7 linked regions of the Homo sapiens genome follow. The protein of the gene in region 2 interacts with the protein of the main gene of each other region in a pairwise test. Each region holds a gene or a part of one and is shown on either strand. Other genes may lie near its edges.

Region 1 (3,500 bases), on a different chromosome or scaffold from region 2:
CCGTCCATCCATCCATCCATCCATCCATCCATCCATCCACCCACCCACCCGTCCATCCATCCATCCATCCATCCATCCATCCACCCACCCACCCGTCCGTCCATCCATCCATCCATCCATCCATCCATCCACCCACCCACCCGTCCATCCATCCATCCACCCATCCATCCATCCAGCCATCTACGGTGGAAAATAACACATAACATAAAATTTACCACCTCAACTTTATTAAGTTTATGGTTGTGCTAGATCTCTAGAACCCTTTTATCTTGCAAAACTGAAACTCCACATTCGTTGAACAATAACTCCGCCCTTTCCCTCCCATCCTCTTCATCCTCCTGCAGCCACTGGAAATCACCAATTTTACTTTATTTTCCTATGAATTTGACTATTCTAGATACCTCATATAAGTGAAATCATACAGTATTGCTCATCTTGTGACTGGACGATTTACTTAACAAATATCCTCAAGGTTCACCCACATTGTAAGGTGTGACAAGATTTCCTTCTTTTTAAAGGGTAATTAATATTGCATTGTGTGTATGTTTACCGCATTTTCTTTATCCATTTATCTGTTGATGTACACTTGGGTTGCTTCCACCTCTTGGTTATTGTGAATAATGCTGCCGTGAGCATGGGCATGCAAATATCTTTTCAATATCCTGCTTTTAATTCTTTTGGGTGTATATCCACAAGTAGGGTTTCTGGACTCTAAGATTATTCTGTTTTTTAATATCTTAAGGAACTGCCATACTGTTTTCCACAGTGGCTACACTATTTTACATTCCCACAAATGTCACACAAGGGTTCCCATTTCTCCACATCCTCACCAACGCTTGTTACTTTTTGGTTTTCGTTTGTTTTTGACAGTGGCCATCCTAACGCGTGTGAGGTGATATCTCATTAAGGCTTTGATTTGCATTTTCTAATAATTAGTGATGTTTTCATATGCTTCTTTTGATTTGTATATCACCTTTAGAGAAAGTCTATCAGAGTTTAAGCCTATTTTTGAAACTGTGTTGTTTCTCTGCTGTTGAGTTCTAAGAATTTTTTTAATATATTCTGGATATTAAAACTTTTTTCAGATGTATGGCTTGAAAATATTTTCTACCATTCTGTAGGATGACTTGTGTTTCTGTTAGTGATGTTTGAGCACAGGAATGAAGGAGGCTCAGATCTGACACTGACTGTGAGATTGAAGAGCACTCCAGACAGAGGGAAGAACAGGGTGAGGCTCAGGCACAGGAGGGACCAGTGAGAGGATCCACAAGGACGTCTGTGTGATTAGACAGAGGGAAGCAAGGCCAAGAACAGGAAATGACTTTGGAGAAGTTGAGCCTGTGTGTGAATCGTGTCTGGCTGCACAGGGCACTGTGAGCATTTGGAGAGTTTTGTGCAAGAGACCATGATTAACTTTTATTTTCATGGGATCCCTCTGGCTGTTGTGTGCAGAAGAGACTGTGTGTGGTAGAGGAAAGACAGAGCAGAGAAGATAGAGAGGAGGCTGGTGAACATCTCAGGCAGGAAGTGGTGCTGGCTGGAACCAAGATGGCAGTGGTGGTGGACATGGCTGTCTTATGGGTAAATTCTGAAGTTAGACTTATGAGAATTGCCAATAGATTGGGTGTACAATGTGAATGACAGAGAGGGAGCAAGAAGACTTCCAGATTTTTGCCCCAATCCATGGGTAGAATGGAGGGGTCAGTCATTGAGGCAGAAAAGATTGTGCAAAAAAAGAGATCTGGGGGAAAAAAGGAGGAGTTCAGATAGAATAGGTTGCATTTTGTGTGCCTTTCGACAAGATGTGTGGGTTTGAAGTATACTATTGGATCAAGGACTATAGTCAGCAGAGGGGAGAGGGCTGGGTGTAAATTTGGAAGTCGTCAGTTTATTGATGGCATGAAGACAACACAGTGGATGAGATTGCAAAGCAAAAGTAAAGAAGAGCTCAGGGCTGCTCTGATATTTAGGGTCAGGGAGATGTGGAGCATCTAGCAAAAGGGCTGCCAAGAAGGTAAGATGGAGCCAGAAAGCACGATGTCCTGTAGTTAAGTCAAGAAGGGCTTCTGTGTAGGGAAGGTGAGCAGCTGGGTCCTCTGCTGCTGTGAAGTCCAAGAAGGAGAAGACTGCAAGACGGACATTTGGACTCAGCCAAGCAGTGGTCATGGTGACCTTGATAACAGCAGTGCTGAGATGTGGTGTGTGTGTGAATGTTAATTTGAGTAATCAAGACAGAATGGGGGAGTGAAATCACAAACAGTTCCATGGAGCATCTGCTGTGCAGGGGAGTAGCAGGGAAGTTCAGAGATGAAGGAGAAGCCTCCCAGGCAGCCTCTGTCACTCTCCACCGTGTGAGTCTATATTAGTTTCCTGTGGCTGCTGTGACAAATTGCCACACATTTCCTGGCTTCAAACAACAAACATGGATTAACTTAAAGTTCTGAAGGTCACAAGCCCAAAATGGGTGTCACTGGGCTAAAATCAAGGCATTGGCAGGCAGGGCCAGTTCCTTCTGGAAGATCCAGGGGAGGATGCGCTTTCTCACCTTTTCCAGCTTCTAGAGGCACCTGCATTCCTTGGCTCAGGACCCTCCCTCTGTCTGCAAGTCAAGCAGCCTGGCATCTTCCAATCTATCTATGCCCTCCTCCTTTCACTACTTGTAAGGACCCCTGTGATTCCACTGGGCCCACCCAAGTAATCCAGGATAATTTCCCCATCTCGATATCCTTAACCTAATTCCATCTGTAAAGCCCCTTTAGCCATGTAAGGTAACAGATCAACAGGTTCCAGGGGATTAGGGCATGGACATTTTGGAGGGGTCATTATTCTTCCTATAAGAGGGATATAATTTATTTTATTGACTTGTCTTCCCCACACCACCAAACTGTGAGCTTCTCAAGGGCAGGTGCCACGTCTGAATCAAGGCCCTGTAATTCTCTCTCACTTGCCCTCTTCCTACCCATCTTATCATAATTCACACATAGATATTCATTTGTTTGGCAGTCATTTATTGCCACCTCCTTCAGTTAAAGAGTGAGATGCAGGGGGTCAGAGCCCATGCCTACCGTGTCCACCACAGTCCATCCAGCACCCAGCCCAGGAACTCACACACAGGAGGCCTCAGCAGGACTCCAGGCTTTGGGGTCAGAAGGAACTGACTGGATTGGGTCCCGGTATAAGAGGGAGTTTGCGCAGGGTACTTAACCATTTCTACCTCAGTTTTCAAATTTATAAAATGGAGACAATAATAATATCTTACTATGGAATTGTTGTTGGAAGTTAATGAGATTAGTAAACACCACATAAGGTGATAATTGAGTATTAGACATTAGAGGAACGTATTAAAGAGATTTCAGCAAAGTGCACATGGGATGAATGGAGGAAGGAACTCCTGGGCCTCCTTCCTGGATGCTCTCTGGTGCATGCTGGCCCCACTGCTCTGCACTGACTCCCTTCTCTTCCTCCATTCAGGGACCCCTGATTGAATCCCCGGCAGATGA
Region 2 (3,500 bases):
TGTGGTTTATTTTTTTACTTTACTTATGGTTTATTTTGTTGTGTAGAAATTTTAAATTTTAGGTGAAATGTAGTCAAAGTTATCAATCTTTTCCTTACACTCTGTAAATTGTCATCTTTTTCTTAACTGCCTTCCTCTAACCTCCACCCACAACAAAACCTAATCCTCTCTGCTATCAAACACTTCACCTATATTGTACCTTCTTCTTTTAACCACGTCTATGAGCTAATGAGGCTACTAGTGTCACAGAAAAGAAGCAAGCCTTGGATTCAAGCCCTGGCTTTGTCATGAGAGGCAGTATAGCATAGTGATGAAGAAATGGATTATGAGCTACAGTGTTGATTTGAAAATTGAGCCCAGCACTTACTAGCTGTATAATCTCAGGCAAGTTACTGGACCTCTGTGTGACTCAGTGTCCTCATCTATAAAATGGGGATAATAATAGTATCTCCCTCATGAAGTTGGATCTGGCATAAGGATTAAATGAGTTAATACAGGTACTGCCCTAATAATAGTGTCTGGCACATAATAAGCATTATATGTGTGTTTGCCATTATTATTGCTAACTCTGTAACTACGGGCAAGTTATCTCCTTAATCTCAGTTTTCTCTTTTGTAAGATAAGGCTACCTTGGAGTATGGGAAATAAAATAGCATAAAATACTAAAATAGTGCTTATCTCCACGCTTGGCACTTATAAGGTATTCAACAGATGTTAGTGTTCTCTCTTCTTCCTCATTGGGGCTAGGGACCATGGCCTTATCTTTAAATCCTCAGCCTCTAGCACAGAGTCTAGCATAAAATAAGGTGCTAAAAATTGTTTGAGCACCTGCTGTGTGCCAAGGCCTCTGCCAGGCACTAAAGACACTGAGGCACAGAGCCTGCCCCTCAGGATGTTCTCAGGCTACAAGTAAGAATGAATGAGACAGAGAAACCACCCTGACAACCCTCAGATGAAAAGCATGGGCCAGTGCAATGGTTTTCACACCAGGCTCCCTAGAGTCCATATTTAAAATCAACATATATGACTGCTTTACTATTTATCATTTCTGATTGAGCATATATATCAATGATCCTCACTGAGCATCAGCTTCCTCATTTGAAAAGTGGGGATACTTTGCAAGGGTTGTTGCAAGAATGAGATATGATCAAGTACACACACAGTCTTTGGTACAGCACCTGGCACACGGACAGCACTCTCTTCTCCCCTCAAACACAGGCCACTGTTGGGGCCTTTTCCTCAGGAGTACTGGGTGGACCTCTGAGTTTTTCTCAGACAGCATTAAGGTCAGGGATGACAACAATCCCCGGCCCAATCCTGTTTTAGACTTCCACTGCTGGTGACCAAATCCTAAAAGGAGCCAGCTCATCTGAGGGCAGAGCTGGAACTCAGCATATCAATGAAAAAGTGTGAGAATACCTTCTCCTCCAACATCAAATGGTCCAATCTCCACCTAGTCAAAGTGACTAAATTTGTCTCAAGTTGTAAAGTTATTTGAAGAATTTTTAAAAATCATTCTTTTTATTTTTATTTTTTAGTAGAGATAGGGTCTCCTTATGTTGCCCAGGCTGGTCTCAAACTCCTTGGGCTCAAGCAATCCTCCTGCCTTGGCCTCCCAAAGTGTTGGGATTACAGGCGGCAGCCACTGTGCCAACCCAGCCTTTAGTAGAGACAGGGTCTTGCTATGTTGCCCAGACTGGTCTCAAACTCCTAGCCTCTGGCAATCCTCCCATCTTAGCCTTCCAAAGTGCTGGGATTATAGGCATGAGCCACTGCGCTCAGCCCCATTTAAAGACCTTTGAAGGATATACTAGTACTTGTAATGATGACGTGGCACTAATATAACACATAATTGTATTCCTCCAAAATTACTTGCAAGGGTTGCTACTGAAGTTCAGAAAAGTCTAATAATACATGGCATGCCCCACCAATAGTGCAGTTCTCCACATTTCCAGGCAACCCTCACACTCACCCAAGTTCAACTGAAATACGGTAAACAAATCAGTACTAAACATACCATAGAGATCTGGATTGCTGCGGATATATAACCTCACAAAGTTTTTCCCGGGTATTGGCAAAAGAGATCCTTTAATTCTGTCAAAGACCTGGAAAACATCATAGCAGTAATTCTACTGAAGTTTTTTAAGTTTAATAAATTCAACTACTACAAAATTGAAACTCAGTCATTAGAGCTTTTATGATAGTATTTTCAAATGCTAATAACCCTTTACTTTTGTAAGACCATTTTCAGTATATAAAGGCTTTCACATTATTTGGTTGTTCAACCATTAAAGAAACAAGTCTCCTTTACCCGTAAAAGGAAAGGTGAAATTGGTTTCCAAACCTGGTAGGTGTCCACATCAAAGAATGTTTGGTAGTATTCAAATGTCCAGAAGGGGGAGCTTTTCTTCTGTCCAGCAAGTAACTGTCAGAAATAAAATAAAACATAATGAACACATAAGCAATTTCTTAATTCCAGCTGCGTGGGGTGCAGGAGGGATCTGATCTAATGGAAAAGCAAAACGTTTGAAACAATAGGCTCTTCCACATTCAATAACCAACTCTGAAATAGCCAATTCGCAACTCTCAGCCTGATTAGAAAAACAAGCATTGGTTTTGAAGTCACACCAAAAGGGTTCAAATCCTGGCCCCTCCACTGAGGGGAGCTTTGGCAAATCACTAGACTCCTGCTGGGCTTAGTTCCCTTATCTAGATTCAACAGTATATAGAATTATGTACAATAATAAATACATATACACACATACAACACATACAGAAGGCAGTCAGTGTAAATATCTTTTCGCTTTTTTTTTTTGAGATGGCGTCTCACTCTCTTTCCCAAGCTGGAGTGCAGTAGTGCAATCATAGCTCACTGCAGCCTTGAACTCCTGGGCTCAAACAATCTTCCCACCTCAGCTTCCCAAGCAGCTGGGACTACACGCGTACACCACTATGCCCAGCTAATTGTTTAATTTTTGTAGAGACAGAGTCTCATTATTTTGCCCAGGCTGGTCTCAAACTCTTGGGCTCAAGTGATACTCCCGCCTCAGCCTCCCAAAGCACGGGGATTACAAGCGTGAGCCACTGCATCCAGCAGTGTAAATATCTCTTCCTCCCCCATCCATCCACAATCCTCCCTACTATTGCCACCTGAATTCTCAAAAATCTGATATATTGACTCACTCTAAAGTACTAAAAATATTACTACTCTGACAAAAAAAAAAATCCTATTGAGAAGAGGCACCTGAGGAGGGCCATACCCATCCCAACAACACAGCTCTTTGGTGGCAGAATGCATGCCCAATGCCAGGAATTGTGCCTGTCATCTTCAGATATCCGAAGGGAATTCATACAGCAAAAAGTACGGTGAACACTGAGCTGCTTTGCAGGACAAGGGCAGGTGCTATAGGCAGATATTTTTTGTTCATTATAAAGGAAAACGGATGGCCGATTAGAAGTAGCTGTGGTCTGCAGCACTCACAGAGAGGAGTGAAAGCGGT
Region 3 (3,500 bases), on a different chromosome or scaffold from region 2:
CATGGTGAAACCCATCTCTACTAAAAATACAAAAATTAGCCGGGCGTGTGGTGAATGCCTGTAATCCTAGCTACTCAGGAGCCTGAGGCAGGAGAACTGCTTGAATCCGGGTGGTAGAGGTTGCAGTGAGCTGAGATCATGCCACTGTACTCCAGCCTGGGCAACAGAGTGAGACTCCGTCTCAGGGAAAGAAAAAAAAATTGGCATATGCTTTAAAAAGTAGACATAAAACTTTATTTGGGGGCTGGAGGGAAGAGAGAGATACATTCAATTAAGGAACAATTCCGTGAAAGTCCAATGACATAAAGGTAGTCTTTATAAATAATCCTGTTATCTAGCTCCACATTTCCCCAAATTAAAGCCTAATGGTTTCTGCAATGTTGAATACACCAAACCAGCAAAATAACCCTTGCTTCCTTCTCATCACACCCAACCACCCCAAGCTCCTCTAAGAGGCATCTGTCTGGCAGTTCACGAGAATCTAAGAGTGAGGCTTACCAGGCCTGTGATCCAAAACCGTACCAGGCTAACTGGAGCATCTGGAAGCCCAAGCCAAGGAGGACAGTATTCTTATTTCCTAATGATCTCATCAAGATGCTAAGAAAGGCCGTCTGCAAAGTAAAGGAGACAACTCTGAAAAACCACATCAACACACAGAATTAAAATACAAGCTCTGTGTGTGAAGACCCTTCCCTGATGACCAGAGACCTCTAAGGGCACACTGCCTGACCTGCAACCTCAGAGTCTGGACAGTACTGATGACCTTCTACAGGGGTGGAGTGTTGGGGGCTCCCAGCCTGACCTGGGGCTCAATGCTTTCAGCCTCCTCCCTAAGAAGCCTGTCTACCTGGTGCTCTGCTGGCACTTCCTGAAAGGATATCACAACTGTTCACCAGTTACCATGACTGAGAGGGACAGCCTCAGTCTCTGGAGAAATACTAATCACTTAAATATCTGTGAATAGCAAACTCCTGCTGAACATTTACAGAATATGAGAGCTTCTGCTGGAAGTTTACAAAGTTGGAATTGGGATGTAAGTTTGATTTTAACAAATATATACTCTGCTAAATATAACTAGTTGAGAAAGTCTAAAAAGGGGTTGGATGAAAGATGACTGGGCTGGCCGGGTGTGGTGGCTCATGCCTGTAATCCCAGCACTTTGGGAGGCCGAGGCAAGCAGATCACAAGGTCAGGAGTTCGAGACCAGCCTGGCCAGCAGGGTGAAACCCTGTCGCTACTAAAAATACAAAAATTAGCCAGGCATAGTGGTGCACACTTGTAGTCCCAGCTATTTGGGAGGCTGAGGCAGTAGAATCACTTGAACCCGAGAGGCAGAGGTTGCAGTGAGCCGAAATCATACCACTGCACTCCAGCCTGGGTGACAGAGCGAGACTCCGTGTCAAAAAAAAAAAAAAAAAAAGATGGCTGAGTTTATGTTTGATTTTGTAAAAAACCAAAATGATCAACTTGAAAGGTTAACATAATTTACATTTGCAACACATTTCAACAAAAACAAAAATATAAACGGCCTTTGTTTTGATGCATTCCCATAAGCCTTGTCAAATGTAGTAGTTTTGCGGCCTTCTCATTTCTCCTTGAGAGAGGTTACCACAGAAGAATGCTCTGCTTTCCTGGTAACCATTTCAGGGAAAACAACCCCTAGGCAGTACCATAAAATATAGTGAGTGTGCCTTGGCACAACAGTGAATTAATTTAAGGACAATATGCTTCATCTTTTCTGGTACTGTATTTACAATAGATAGGGAAATGGTTAATGCTCTCTACTCACTGAAAATCATTTATCAATACCTATATATAATAGATATTTATATATAATATCTATTATATATATATGAATATATATGAATATATGAATATATATGAATATATGAATATATATGAATATATATGAATATATATGAATATATATATGAAAATATATATATATATATATTCTCCCTCTCTCTTTTTTGAGATGGAGTCTCACTCTGTCACCTAGGCTGGAGTGCAGTGGCGCAATCTCGGCTCCCAGCAACCTCCACTTCCCAGGTTCAAGCGATTCTCCTGCCTCAGCCTCCTGAGTAGCTGGAATTACAAGCACATGCCACCACACCCAGCTGATTTTTGTATTTTTAGTAGAGACAGGGTTTCGCCATATTGGCCAAGCTGGTCTGGAACGCCTGACCTCAGGTGATCCACCTGCCTTGGCCTCCCAAAGTGCTGGGATTACAGGTGTGAGCCACCGTGTCTGGCCCTCACTGAATATGTTTTAATGCTCTGATTCATATTTCTTCAGTCCTGGGAACAGTCGGAGTTAAAGCAGTTACAGATTTTCATTTCTGCTTTTCATTTCTACTTACTTTTCAACATTAAAATAACACTGAACCATTTTCCTAGTTGATTTTGCAATCCAGAGATAGATTATAATTATTTACTATTTTGGTTGGTGTAAAAGCAAATAAAATAATTGACCCAGCAGAGGTTACGACAAATATTCTAAAAAGTAGGGAAAGTTGTATCAAAGTTCTCCTAAATCATCTTTTCTGAGAAAACACTAAATGGCAGATGATGCTGGTGCAAGGGGAGCACCAGAGGCCCCCAGGGGCCTGGGATGGGGAACCACTGTGGCTTCCGAGGAGACTTAGGCAGTGGCATCGGGGCCAGGGCCCCTGAGCTGAGGAGGCAAGGCTGAAGACAAGAGTGGATGCCAGTCACCAGGCTGGGCTGCCTGGTCAAGGATATAATTTTAAAAACATTGTTTTAAATAAAAACATAAAAAATTTCCCCTAAATTACAACCTCAAAAAAGAAAATAACCTCTACACATTATATAAGAAGGAATAGTTCTGTGGACCACATTCACATCAGTTTCTTGATCTGATATTATACTATAGCTTGCAAGACCTTACCATAGCAGGGGGTGAGGGACTGAGGTAGCAGCTCAGGGAATATCTTCCTGCATTTTTATATGTGGCTTCCTGTGAAACTATGGTTATCAGGATATTTTTTAAATTTTTTAAGTATAGATAAAATGATACTCACCTGAGCCACAATAGACAGAATTCCTACCATAGCTATGAATGCTGCAATTTTAACAGATCCAAAACCTATGACCTATGGAAATGAAATGAAAACACTTTAGTAATATAGATATTATAAAATAATAAGAAATATTATGTTCTATTACAATGATAAGTCTAGGAAAATTCATAAAACCAGTGGCAAATTAAGACATGCTGAAAGCTGAACCTATATAACCAGTAATTTATATCTAAAACTGATGTAAGAAATCGTTATAAGCAGGCACAACTTAAATTGTGAAATGTTTTATAGACATTTTCTATTATATGTCTACCTGTTGTTTTATATACCCTCTCCATCCCCAACCCACAAGTTGATAAATATGGTATCAAGTAATAAAAAATGAAACAAAATGACTGACTTTTGATGCTGCCAATACAGCATTGCTCATTAGCAAAGCCAGTGGCTCTCAACTTTGCC
Region 4 (3,028 bases), on a different chromosome or scaffold from region 2:
TGCCCTCCATGGTTTCCATCTGGTACGTACGTTGTCAAGGCCAAAGCTCTGCAAGTCATGGACTAGGAGAGAAGGGAGAAGGCAAGGGAGAAGGCGTCATTAGTAGGAGCAGCACTGGCCTCCTCCTTCCTCCCCCTGGACTGCAAACCACCTGTCTTCTCTGCCCCTCATTCCTTCTCCAGCCTGGCACCTCCTGGTCCTGCTTAAGGACAGCCAGAAAGGGCAAGCCTTGGGCCTGTGTGAGAGTTCACGCCCTCCTCAGGAGTCTTTAGAACAGACCCTGGTTCCTCCCTGACGTCCACAGGGAACTCTATGCCTTGACTACCACCATGGCCCTGCCTGCATCTCCGGAAACAAAACCCACCGACTATGGGCTCTCACTAACTAGAGCTGATGGCAAATCACTGAACCTCAAAGTGAGGTGGGATCTGAGAATGCCATCCACACTTTCCCTGCCTCCACCCTCAAAGCTCCCCAGAAGAAATCCCATGGGGACCCTGTACCAACTGTTCCAGAACAATTTATTCCTGCCCTCTAGCCTCAATCCCTCCTGCTGCAAGGAACCATACTTCAAAGATACATCCCAGACCTTTTACAGTCACCCAGCAGCCAGGTCAGAGGAGACCCAATCACAGCCCCATCCAACCTCCCCGCCATTCTAGTAGGGCAGGCTGCCCCAGAAGTAGGGGTTTGGCCTCCATGGGGGCAGGGCCACTTACTCTCCACAGCATGTACTGCAGCATGGGGGAGGGAGGAGAGAGAAGAAAGATTCAGAGCTTCACAATGAGAACTATGAGAGCAAGATATGTTGCAGGAGGGAAGACTGGAACATTCAGCCTCAGCAACACAGTCTGGCCCCAGCTAACAAGCCTCCTTCTGGGCCCCTCCTCGAGAGTGAACTAATCTGGCCAGAGAGGAGCAAAATAGTGGCCTAGAAGGACAAGAGGCCTAGAGCTCAAAGAGCCAAGTTCCTGACTGTGTGGCCTTGGGCAAATCAGTTGCCCTTTCTGGGCCTCAGTGTTCTCCTTTGCAAAGGGCTGTCCTAAGGATCACGTGGGATCTAAGATGGAAAAATACTTGTAAACTTTACACTGTAAGAGATTATTACCCACCCCAGCCCCAATCAACAAGGATGTTAGAAACTCACTCCCAGGCCTCAATTCAGCCAGATCTCTGGCCTTGGGCAACTGTACCTTTGCATTTATACATCCTTCCAAATACAGAGCACCCCCGGCCCGGGGATCCACAAGTCTAACAGTCCCAGGCCAAGAGGCTGCCACTCTGGCTGTGTGTCTACTGAGTGCCCGCCAGACCTTGTGCCAACAGCTTGACACTGATCATCTTCCTGCCCTCCCAGCAAGACCCTTTTCTCCCAGCTTCCTCCAGAGTGAAGAGGGGGTCCCAGAGCTCTGCAGGGTCCTCCAGCCCCCACACTGGCCCCTCCCCAACACAGCCCCACCCCCACAGATTGCCCTGAAGACCAGCAGAGCTACCCTCCAGGGGGCCCTTTCTTCCTGTTCACTTCAACCATTTTGAGAGGCCATCTTCATACCCTGGGCTCTGTCACTGTGCAGCTCTGTCCATCCTTTACTGTGACACCAACTCCCACCTTCCCCAACCCTGCCTTCAACCCCTGGGTTCCTCTTCACTTTCTTGCTTCAGCCTGGCTCTTCCTTTCAGGCACTAACTCCCTGGCATCCCCTCAACGTGCGACTATCTTCTCTCCATACACAACCTCTTCCCTGGCCTAAAGAGAAGTCTTTCTTGCTCCTTACTGCCACTTCCAGATCACTTTCCCTTTATCTGCCTTAAAAATGCACAATGGCTCACATCTGTAATCCCAACATTTTGGGGGGCCAAGCGGGAGGATCACTTGAGCCCAGGAGCCTGGGCAACATGGCAAGACCCTGTCTCTGCAAAAAAAAAAAAAAAAATTAGCCAGGCATGGTGGCATGTGCCTGTGGTCTCAGCTCCTTGAGAGGCTGAGGTGGGAGGATCTCGAGTCCAGGAGGTCAAGGCTGCAGTGAGCCAAGATTGTGCCATGGCACTCCAGCCTCAAAAAAAAAAAAAAAAAAAAAAAAAAAATCCCCAGCTTTGAAGCTCAGGGCAAAGCAGCCCTGCTTGTTTCAGTCACCTAGATATCGATATGGAACCTCCAGAACAGTTTTCCCATGCCATTTTTCAACAGCTTGGGCAACTGCCTGTCACTCTCTCCTGTACTACCTCTGTCACACGTTCTAGTGATTTCCATATCCACGTAGATGATCCTTCCAGTACCCGGGCCTCCCAGTTCCTGGACATCCTTTCCTCCCTGATCTTGTGCTCTGCCTACCCAAGCCACTTGCTCTGTTGGCCATTCCCTAAACTTTGTCATTAACAAAGCCCCTTCTGTGACTTCAATTTCAAGCAACTCATGCTCCACCAGCTTTCTAATTTCCTCCAGTTCCCCAATTCCAATAACTTGTTGACACTACACTCAGGACTTGTAGTCCCTTTTTCCTCCTGCCCCCTCACTGGCTTCTCCACATCCTGTCTTTCCTCCTTTCCTAGCTCATATGCTGTGGTCCAGAATCAAGATGAGTTCTTTACATATTTGACTCCCTCACCTTTGCAGGCACCTGGCAACACCAAACCCCATGCAATTGCAATGTTCTGTTGACTGAGTCCATTCCCACACAGACAACCATGCTGACCGCTCTCTTTGCATTCACAGCCGCGGACTCCAGGGAGGCCCTAGGGCTGCATCAATCCTACTCAATCTCCCCAGTCCACGCACTCTTCCACCCCCAAGTGACCAGTCACATCTTTTCTTCTTTCAAATCTCCAACACCTCCTTCCCTCTCTCCTCATTCTCAACTGAGGACCTTCCTTCCTACAACACGGAGAAGATGGGAAGACTCAGAAGAGACTCTCCATGTACTTCTGCCACACCAGCTACCACCCTACCTGTACCTACAGAGCCTGCCCTTCCTCCTGGTGCTAAGTTTGGACTTTCCACATATGTAAGGCACTAGATTCTGTCTTCTTT
Region 5 (3,500 bases), about 41 Mb from region 2:
AAAGTATACAAACATTTCAAAATTTTAATGGAAATAACTTAGACATTTATTATCCCTCCAAATAAAACAACCAGGAAACAAAATAAAGAATGCCAAGTTGCTATTTTAAGTACTGATAAGTCCTAGTAACACTGATTCATACATTATCTAGTCTTACATTTTGTAAATAAAAGTTCTTCAGCCTTATGGAAATAAATTAGAAGGTATGTTCTCAAAATGGTATTAAGTATATTTTGAAAGACTTCCAAAAATCTTTGACAATTATATATTATACATTCTCAGAAAAAAGTATATATCTATGTATCTATATATATCACTATAGTTCTATTTACTGCTTTCCAAGTAGCTTTTTCAAATAAAATCTAAAAGTCATTATTATTACAAATTCTAATACCAAAAAATCTCATAACTTATCCTATTTACAAGTTAGTGAGAGTATTATCTACACAAAATTCCTTAAATAAAAAGTAGACATAGTCATACCAGAAACAAACCAAGCAGGAAACAGAAAAACACAGAGCACATTCTATATACAGCTATACCTTTAGGCTTGTTAAGTAGCAAATAACCCTAATGTACACTTAATTACAGAAATAATTACATAAAGATATAAAGAAAAAATATCCAAAGATGTTTAACGAGTTTTCAGCCAGAGGTACTGTACTTATAAATCTTTGAGATTTAGAAATATTTCTGGTTTTGGTCTTATGTATAGGGCCTGATATCAAAATGGTCCACTGCTTAGAGTGAATAAGTGTAAACATTTTCAAAGCAAACAAACCAATCTTTAGGAGCTGCTTTCAATTCTTCACTGCTATCCAAAATATATTCCAATAAAGGTATGAATTATTATCAAAACTAGAGGCTGGCCTAGTCTGGCCTAGAAACGGGTAAGGTTCAAGCCTTGGATGTTGTACTTTGGAAAACACCAAGTAACGCAGTTGCTGGTAAATTTGTTTTCAAAGAAACATTACCATAGCAAAGTTTTCCCTAAAGAGCAGGACTCTAAAATAATTTTGGCACAAGCCAGCATCCACCCTCTCATAACACAGAGTTATCTCAGTTCCTCTGTGCTCCTGTCATGGGGTCTAAAAAGAACATTTAGATAATTTACAAGCCTATAATAAATCTTCAGCTGAAACACATTACAAAGCTCTGACTGTTAAACCAGTTTAAGAAAAACAGAGATGACAGATCTCTTAATAAAACCATAACATTATTAGCTTTGCCTCATGTTGTAAACAGTTATTATTAAATGCTGAATGGCTTCCTGTAGTCTCTTAATAAGTCATGATTTGTCTGAGCTCCACTTTAAACTTTACTACAATGCTTTTTTTCAATGAGAGAACCTATTTGTAAACTTTTAAATTTGCCATAAGAGACTGGGAAGCTTATAGATACATGGGGAGGTCTCAAAAGTTGACAGCGAAAGGTGTTAGCATAAAAGAGGGAGATGCTGATGAAGTCATCTGGTGTACCAGGAGGAAGAGATGGAAGGATTCAAAGAGAATACTTCTAGATCAAGGGAGGACTATCACGGCGTTTAAGGGAAAAGCACTCTCAATGCCTCCTCTAACTCCAGATCCTCTAGCTTTTCATTGTTCCTACACACCTCACATGTGTTTTGCATCAGAACTCACTTTCAGTAGCTTTAATGTATTTCAATGAGCTGTGTTTAAGGTTGGGAAGATATATGTGCATCCAGAGACACATGAAGGGTCTCGCTGTATGCTGGCTCGCACCTGAGAAACACTGTGCTACTCTTGATAAAATTATCTAAGTTCAACTTCTTATGGAATCCAAACACATAAAAATACATAAACCTTTATGAAGTATTATTGATGATGTCAATACATGAACTTTTCCATTTCAGCTAATAGACTAAACCACCTAAAGCTATTCAAATGCACATTTATTTAAATGTTTGGAATTAAGAGCAACCTAGAAACAGAAAACGTGTTCAAATATTTATTTTAACAGCATCTTTTGGAACATGTTTATTTCCCTTAAAAACGACACAGAGGAAACATGTACACTGTAACAACACCTTCCCCTCTGTTTCTCCAGAAGAAAAATGTTTCTGCATGCCTGATAACAGATGGTGCAACCAACAGTAAACCTGGCTCTCTACACCAGTGAAGAACCATTCTCCAAATGCCCAGTGTGCCTCAGAGGAAATATACAATTTAAAAGTTGACCCTGTAGCAAAAATTTTGAGTCAAATTATTAAAATTTAGAAAAGAACTGGATTCAAATACTTACAAACTAGGCAGTTTTTAAAACTAGACCTTTAAGACCGTCCTGGGTCATCCATAATATATCAGAGTCACTCTTAGGGGTGGTAACAACATAAATAGTATTTCACTTAACGTAAGGCTAGTCCATGAAATAATAAAATCAAACAGTTGGGATAAAAATTTAATTCAATTTACTGTAGGGTATCAACACATATTTGAGCAGAAGTCAATTTCTTTGCACTCATATATAACTTCATTTCCAGTTTTACATAAATGCAAATAATCCTTTAAAAGATTTTAGACATAAGAAGGCAAACTTTATAAGTTATAGCTCATAATTTTCAAATTTTCACAAATAAAAATTTAATGCAGGATCTATGATCTTGCATGCTATTAGTTGGTTTTCATTCATTTTTTAAGTTTCACAAGAACTTTTATTTTCTAGGATACTACACATTCAAAAAACATCTTTATAATTACAGGTTATCTTTTTTCTACAAAAATAGAATTGCTCAAAAATTTATATCAATTTGCTTTTATTTTTCTATAAATATTTTAATAGAGTTGTTAAATATCAGAATGCCTGATAGAATCATTTAAATTAATCCGTGTAGTCAAAATACTTAATATTTAAAATGTCTAGCAAACGTTTTTCATTTAATAAATGAAAAATTCATCGTGCAGTAAATGATATGTTCTGTCTTCATTTGTATTTTAGGTAGGTGAATACAATCATAGAACAGCAAAGTGTACCTCCTGCAAAGGTCAGACTTAAAAGTAGCAGGGCAGTTTCTAGTGGCATTTCCATTCCATGTCTGTTGTATGAGGAAATATATAGAACCTACTTCAGGATATTTAATCTGGATGTTGAATTAACTCATGCAGCCAGCATAAGATAAGGATTGCTGAATAAGAGAATCACAAACTTTAGTTCAAAATTTTGATGTTTTAAATATACTTATTTAGTGAGTGGCTATACCAGTGAAGGGTAACATTAATGAAAGTAAGAATGAAGTTTTAAGCATGAAACAGTAACTATAAAAACAAACTGCTACATGGAGACTCACTAATATAGCTTTATATTGTTTTCATTTTGATAGTGGGTTTAAAATCTGTGTTCAGAACTATAGAAATATCCAGAGTCAAAAAATATTTATCTCAAGGTCTCTTTCTAAAAGAATGAATTTCCAAAATAGTTTTATTATATAAATTTTTTTAAAGCCACTTTTCCTGCAAAAAGGTAAGAACAAGATAAAACCGCTT
Region 6 (3,500 bases), on a different chromosome or scaffold from region 2:
CTGGGCACAGTGGCTCATGCCTATAATCCCAGCACTTTGGGAGCCTTAGGTGGGTGGATAACCTGAGATCGGGAGTTTGAGACCAGCCTAGCTAACATGGAGAAACTCCATGTCTATTAAAAATACAAAATTAGCCGGGCGTGGTGGTGTATGCCTGTAATCTCAGCTACTCAGGAGGCTGAGGCAGGACAATCGCTTGAACCCAGGAGGCAGAGGTTGCAGTGAGCTGAGATTGTGCCATTGCATTCCAGCCTGGGTGACAGAGTAAGGCTCCGTCTCAAAAAAAAAAAAAAAAAATTATACAACTAACATGAATTCATGTTTATCGAAAAAAAAGTACAGGCATGGTGGCTCACGTCTGTAATCCCAGCACTTTGGGAAGCCAAGGCAGGTGGATCACCTGAGGTCAGGAGTTCGAGACAAGCCTGGCCAACATGGCGAAACCCCGTCTCTACTAAAAATACAAAAAATTAGCTGGGCATAGTGGCGGGCACCTGTAATCCCAGCTACTCAACAGGCTGAGGTGGGATGACAGCTTGAGTCCGGGAAACTGAGGTTGCAGCGAGCCGTTATCGTGCCACTGTACCCCAGCCTGGGTGACAGAGCGAGACCCTATCTCAAAAAACAAAAAAGCAAAACAGAAAAAACCACCTAAACACTAACAAATTGGTTTGTGGGGAAAAAAAGAGTTTAAAAAAAAAACAACAAATAAAACCACACACAACAGGCCACATGTGGTACCTAAAGCCTGTAATCCCAATACTTTGGGAGGCCGAGGCAGGAGGATCACTTGAGTCAAAGAGTTTGAGACCAGCTTAGGCAACACAGCAAGACCTCATCTCTACTGAAAAGAAAAACATTAGCTAGGTGTGGTGGTGCACGCTTGTACTCCCATTTACTTGGGAAGCTGAGGTGGGAGGATTGCTAGAGCCAGAAGGTTGAGGTTGCAGTGAGCTCTGATTGTGCCACTGCACTCCAGCTTGGGAGACAGAGCAAGACCCTGTCTCGAAAAGAAAAAAAAAAGTATCATTTATGACATTTATAAGAAAATTGGAAATGTGAACACTGACTAGAATCATTAATTTTTTGCATGTGATAATGATGGCAGATGTTTCTTAAAGTCTCTTTTTCAGAAAAATATACTGAAATACCTAGATTAAATGATATGACACATCAATAATTTGTGTCAAACAATAAGGAAGACGTAGAAAAGAACTGGGGTATGGAAGACACAAAATTGGCCAGGAATTGAAAAAAATAATATTATGTACATGGTGGCACACAATATTATTCTGCCTACTTACACATGTTTTAAGCTTTCCATAATAAAATATTTTTAAAATGATCCATTATCCACATATGTACTCTAAAAAGTGTGAAGACAGGCTATTCTCTTCATTAAAAAATTCACATATAAAAACACTATGGTTTTAAAACTTTTTCACATAATACATAGACAATTAGCCTGATGTGGTGATGAACTCCTGTGGTCTCATCAGCCATGAGGTGGAATGATCACTTGAGCTCAGGAGTTCCAGGGTACAGTGAGCCATGATCACACCACTGCAATCTAGCCTGGGTGACAGAGTGAAACCTTCTCTCAAAAAAAACAATGAATGGGCCAGGCGCAGTGGCTCAAACCTGTAATTCCAGCACTTTGGGAGGCTGAAGCAGGTAGATCACTTGACATCAGGAGTTCAAGACCAGCCTGGCCAACATGGTGAAACCCCATCTCTACCTAAAAATACAAAAATTAGCTAGGCATGGTGGCGGGTGCCCGTAATCCCAGCTACTCAGGAGGCTGAGGCAGGAGAACTGCTTGAATCCGGGAGGCGGAGGTTGCAGTGAGCTGAGATTGTGCCACTGCACTCCAGCCTGGGCAACACAGGAAGACTCCATCTCAAATAAAATAAAATAAACTAAGACGGTGGCTCAAGCCTGTAATCCCAACACTTTGGGAGGCTGAGGCAGGCAGATCACGAGATCAGGAGATCGAGACCATCCTGGCTAACACGGTGAAACCCTGGCTCTACTAAAAAATACAAAAAATTAGCCGGGAGTGGTGGTGGGCGCCTGGAGTCCCAGCTACTCGGGAGGCTGAGGCAGGAGAATGGCGTGAACCTGAGAGGCGGAGCTTGCAGTGAGCCGAGATCGCGCCACTGCACTCCAGCCTGGGCAACAGACAGAGCGAGACTCTCTCAAAAAAAAAAAAGAAAAGAAAAATAAACGAAAAATAAACTAAGAAGGTTCCAACTTTTTTTTTTTTTTTTTTTTTGAGACGGAGTCTTGCTCTTGTTGCCCAGGCTGGAGTGCAGTGGCGCGATCTCGGGTCACCACAACCTCTGCCTCCCAGGTTCAACGGATTCTCCTGCCTCAGCCTCCCAAGGTAGCTGGGATTACAGGCATGCGCCACCATGCCCGGCTGATTTGGCATTTTTAGTAGAGATGGGGTTTCTCCATTGTTGGTCAGGCTGGTCTTGAATTCCCGACCTTAGGTGACCTGCCTGCCTCGGCCTCCCAAAGTGCTGAGAATTATAGGCATGAGCCACTGCGCCCAGCCAAAAGTTTCCAATTTTTTGATGTAATAAAAGCTGAACTATACATCACTGAGCATGTTACTGGGTCAAAGGCATTAACTATTTTAAACAAATAGCTTTATTGGTCGGGCACCGTAGCTCACACCTGTAATCCCAGCCTTTGGGAGGCCGAGGCAGGTGGGTCACTTGAGGTCAAGAGTTCAAGACCACTTTGGCCAACATGGTGAAACTCCATCTCTACTAAAAATACAAAAATCAGCCAAGACATGGTGGTGCACGCCGGTAGTCCCAGCTACTTGGGAGGCTGAGGCAGGAGAACTGCTTGAATCTGGGAGGCAGAGGTTGCAGTGAGCTGAGATCATGCCACTGCACTCCAGTCTGGGCCACAGAGTAAGACTCCGTTTCAAAAAAAAAAAAGTAAGAAAATAGCTTTATTGAGATAATGGTTTGTATACGATAAAATTCTCTTTCAATTCATCTGCCAGCAGCAGAGATGAAAAAAAAATCACAATGCTGTACGACTAATAGCCTTATGTAATTTCAGAACATTTTCATCACTCCAAAAGAAACCCATACCCATTAGTATTCTTTCTCCATTTCCCCCAGCCCTGGAAAAGCTTCTTAAGTGGCTTAAAATATGTTACCAAACTACTTGCTAGAAAGGCTGTCCAATTTATGTTCCTATCAGCCATATGCCCATTTTTCCATATTTTCCCCAGAATTAATTATGATCATTAAAAATACTTAAGGCCAGGTGTGGAGGCTCACACCTGTAATCCCAGCACTTTGGGAGGCCAAGGTGGGTGGACTGCTGGAGCCCAGGAGTTCAAGACCAGCCTGGGCAACATGGTGAAACCTTGTTTCTACGAAAAATACAAAACAATTAACCAGGTGTGGTGACACACACCTGTAGTCCCCACTACCTGAGAGGCTGAGGTGGGAGGATGGCTTGAGCCCAGAGGT
Region 7 (3,500 bases), on a different chromosome or scaffold from region 2:
AGCCTCTTGAGTACCTGGGATTACAGGCACCCATCACCATGCCTAGCTAGTTTTTTTGTATTTTTAGTAGAGACAGGATTTCACTATGTTGGCCAGCGTGGTCTCTAACTCCTGACTTCAGGTGATCTGCTCGCCTCGGCCTCCCAAAGTGCTGGGATTACAAGCATGAGCCACCCCACCCAGCCAACAAACGCTTTTTAAATATAAGTATGTCCCATGCAGCGTGTCCCCTAAAGAACGATGTGTTGTTCATCTGAAACTCAGATGTTACCAGGCGTCCTGTGTTTGATGTGACAACCCTGTCCACAGCCCTGGCACGGAAGGGGCAGTCGCTGAGGGTGCAGTCTTGGGGTGAGGGTCCCTGTGATGGCAGCCTGTGTCCAGCTTGGACTGGCCATGGGAAGGCCACTGTGTGGGCGGGTCTGGCCTTGGTAAAGGGCCACCCCCTGAGACCCACCGAGCCTAGTTCCAGTTTCCTCCTCACAACCCCAGCCTGGAAGGGCGTTCGGGTGTGGAGCAAGCCACAGGGTTTCCCCCCAGTGTGGTTCGCATTGGGGTGCCGGGTGGTTCCGAGTCAGCTGCCCCCTCTGCCTCCTCCCCGTGCCCATCACAACTGCCCCCAGTGCTGGGACCTCTGGGCAAGAGGCTGAGGCTGACACTCTGGAAAGGTGTGCAGTGGTGTTGTGGGGTCCCTGGGGTCCGGTCCACATACATCCCTGCTTGCCCGGCTCTTGGCATCCTGTAGGAGAAGGTGCCACAGCCTAGTGGGTGGGAGGGCAGGAGCCCCATCACTGGAGTCGGAGGTTGCTTTTGATGTTGATGGCAGTGAGGTTGCTTCTGATGTTGATGGCAGTGAGGTTGTTTCCGACGTTGATGGCAGTGGACTTGCCTCCAGGTTAGCTGCCTCCCCAAGCAGCTTTGGGGGTACAGAATGACCGACCAGTGTGGGATCCCAAACATCCTATCCCCTTGCCTGAAAGTGGGACGAGGCTGAAGCTGACCTCTCGCTGAGACCACCTCATTCGGCCCCGTCCTCTGCTGCCACGTCCTTCTTCCTGGTACCCCCCTTCTCCAGCCCCAAATAAGTCACGTTCACAGGATCCCCAGCTCAGGCTCTGCTCCTGGAGAAGCTGCCCTCAGAGGCTGCGTTGCCGATTCCTTTTTCAACGGAGAGGCTGCAGCGTGTGGCAGGTGCCACCATCTCTTGGAGTGAGGCAGCCTCAGGGGCTCTGTCCGGGGCTGCAGCCTGATTGGTGATCTTTGCACGCCCCTTCTCTGCCCTGGCTGGGCCATATGCCACATGGGGCGTGAGGGGCCTGCAACACAAGTCCCTCTGGGGGCTCGTGATGTGGTTGAGCTGGAAGATACATTCTGGAACATCTAAGACCCCAGCCACTGTCCTGAGTCTGGATGCCGCGGGTGCCGGGCATGGGGGCTCTGGGCCCGGGCCCTGGGGTGCTTGGAGGTGCTGTGGAGGAGGGGTGGGGCTGGCTTGGAGCCCATGGGATTCGATTGGAGGGTGGGAGTGTGAGAGAGGAGAGAGCGTGAACAGAGCCTTGGACAGAAAAGCCTGGAAGGATCAGGACCCTTTGGGGGGTGGCGGGTGAAGGTGGCGGGGTGTGGGGATACCCTGGGGACGGACAGGTCACTTGAGGCTACAGGACTTTGAATTCCACACTTAGTTTGGATCCCACCCTCTGGTGTGGGGCGTGTGAGTGGAGGGGGCCTGGCTAGGGAAAGGGGGGGGGCAGTGGGGAGTGGAGGGCTGCTTCGCTCCGAGAGATGGCGGCACCTGCCACCCGCTGCAGCCTCTCCGTTTAAAAAGTGACTGGCAGAACAGGAGCAGCTGCTGCCAGCTCCTGTCCATTTTGTCCTCTGAAAAGAGAGGTCGGGGTGGCCAGGTCCTCATTTTTCAGGAGACAGAAGAGAGCTGAATTTTTATGTCAAATCTCTTGGTTTTGAGTTGTTAGCAGGTAATTCCAATGTTTTATGAAAACAGCGGTGGGACGAATAAAACCTACGTATCAGTAAGTCTCGGCCTCCAGGCCTCTGGTCTGCAGCCTGTGCCACCGTGAGTTGGAAGAGTGGTGGACGGACTCTGTTCTCCCCGCAAAAGCCCTTTCCAGGGTGGCACATCCACGCCGTTAGTGCCCGGCTGCAGGGAGAAGCTCAAATGACAAATGAGGCTTGAGGTTTGCCGCGTTGGGCGTCGTGCTGAGGCCCAGCCGTCCTCACGGTGACCTTTGGCATGAGGAGTCCTGGTTCCACTCTACAGACGAGGACACTGAGGGCCAGCGGGGCCCAGAAACTTCCCTGAGTCACAGCTCACAGAGCAAGACATGGGCCCAGGTCTGCTGACCGGGTTTCCTTTTTATTTTATTGTGGTAAGAGAAATACAGAATGTACCACGTTAGCTACTTTTAAGTATACAATTCAGTGGTATTAATTACCTTCACGGTGTTAGGTAGCTGTCATCACTGTTTACCTCCAAGGCTTTCCCATCATCCTACTGCAAAACTCTGTCCCTATTCAACACTGACCCCACAACCCTCCCCAGCCCCTGCACCCACCGCGCTTTCTGCATCTCTGAGCGTGACTACTCTAAGGACCCCGTGTACATGGAATCATCCGATATGTGGCCTTTTGTGCCCAGCTCAGTTCACTCTGTGTAATGTCTTCAGCGTTCATCCACATTGCAGCCTGTGTGAGAATGTTCTACCTTTTCAAGGCTGAATGATGTTCCATCGTATGGACGGACCGCATGGCGTCTGTCCATTTACCAGGTGATGGACTTGTGGGTTGCCTTTCCCTTTCCAGCCATGGAAACAGTGCTGCTGAGAACCCAGGTGCACAGGCAGCTGCTGCAGTCCCCACCCTCCCTTCTTCTGGGGATATCAGGTCTGCTGATTTTATGTCTGAAGGTCATGGGCCACTGTCCCTTCCCTATGCCCTTGAATCTCTTCCATGGTGTGTCCACTGTGTGGTCTTCCTGGATACCTCCAGCAATGGGGAGCTCACTGTCTCCCAGAGCAGCCCATTCAGGGCTTAGTGTGTAGCCCACACCTGTGTCCCTGTAGCTGCCACTCATTAGCCTCCTAACCCAGGACGCGTTTCCTTGTGCCCTTGGCAGGGGCTCCGTATTCACTCTGGGTTCTGTGGTCCTCACTCTGCACCACAGACTCTGATGCCTCCCTTCTCCCTCCCCGATTTCCAAGAGAGAACAAGATCTAGCCATGAGAAGCAGGATGGAGGTGTCTTCAAAAACAGCCACTGGTGATAGAAGTTGTAGGAAGGTACCATGGTCTGTCTGCCTCCACGCAAACCTCACCAGGTTTCATCAAGATAGCACACCAGGAGTGGTGTGGCTCATGACTGTAATCACAGCACTTCTGGAGGCTGAGGCAGGATCACTTGAGCCCATGAGTTAGAAACCAGCCTGGCCAACATAATGAGACTGCCATCTCTACAAATAATTTACAAAGTAGTGGAGCATGGTGGTG

The links.
Region 1: the proteins of YIPF1 (region 2) and SIGLEC12 interact in binary tests that used the Homo sapiens proteins (3 or more experiments, as listed by UniProt).
Region 3: the proteins of YIPF1 (region 2) and SLC71A2 interact in binary tests that used the Homo sapiens proteins (3 or more experiments, as listed by UniProt).
Region 4: the proteins of YIPF1 (region 2) and ERGIC3 interact in binary tests that used the Homo sapiens proteins (3 or more experiments, as listed by UniProt).
Region 5: the proteins of YIPF1 (region 2) and TLCD4 interact in binary tests that used the Homo sapiens proteins (3 or more experiments, as listed by UniProt).
Region 6: the proteins of YIPF1 (region 2) and RETREG3 interact in binary tests that used the Homo sapiens proteins (3 or more experiments, as listed by UniProt).
Region 7: the proteins of YIPF1 (region 2) and JPH3 interact in binary tests that used the Homo sapiens proteins (3 or more experiments, as listed by UniProt).

The regions. Positions count from the first base shown.
Region 1 is NC_000019.10:51,491,801-51,495,300, reverse strand, and holds part of SIGLEC12 (sialic acid-binding Ig-like lectin 12 isoform a precursor), read left to right. Parts: intron 1-3,471; coding exon 3,472-3,500. UniProt on the Homo sapiens protein: Putative adhesion molecule that mediates sialic-acid dependent binding to cells. The sialic acid recognition site may be masked by cis interactions with sialic acids on the same cell surface.
Region 2 is NC_000001.11:53,876,298-53,879,797, forward strand, and holds part of YIPF1 (protein YIPF1), read right to left. Parts: intron 2,426-3,500; coding exon 2,345-2,425; intron 2,106-2,344; coding exon 2,018-2,105; intron 1-2,017.
Region 3 is NC_000009.12:94,451,069-94,454,568, reverse strand, and holds part of SLC71A2 (hippocampus abundant transcript-like protein 1), read right to left. Parts: intron 3,114-3,500; coding exon 3,042-3,113; intron 612-3,041; coding exon 499-611; intron 1-498.
Region 4 is NC_000020.11:35,552,078-35,555,105, reverse strand, and holds part of ERGIC3 (endoplasmic reticulum-Golgi intermediate compartment protein 3), read right to left. Parts: intron 735-3,028; coding exon of another isoform or gene 720-734; intron 63-719; coding exon 31-62; intron 1-30. UniProt on the Homo sapiens protein: Possible role in transport between endoplasmic reticulum and Golgi. Positively regulates trafficking of the secretory proteins SERPINA1/alpha1-antitrypsin and HP/haptoglobin.
Region 5 is NC_000001.11:95,193,855-95,197,354, reverse strand, and holds part of TLCD4 (TLC domain-containing protein 4), read right to left. Parts: 3' UTR 1-3,500.
Region 6 is NC_000017.11:42,599,375-42,602,874, forward strand, and holds part of RETREG3 (reticulophagy regulator 3), read right to left. Parts: intron 1-3,500. UniProt on the Homo sapiens protein: Endoplasmic reticulum (ER)-anchored autophagy regulator which exists in an inactive state under basal conditions but is activated following cellular stress.
Region 7 is NC_000016.10:87,640,508-87,644,007, forward strand, and holds part of JPH3 (junctophilin-3), read left to right. Parts: intron 1-3,500. UniProt on the Homo sapiens protein: Junctophilins contribute to the formation of junctional membrane complexes (JMCs) which link the plasma membrane with the endoplasmic or sarcoplasmic reticulum in excitable cells.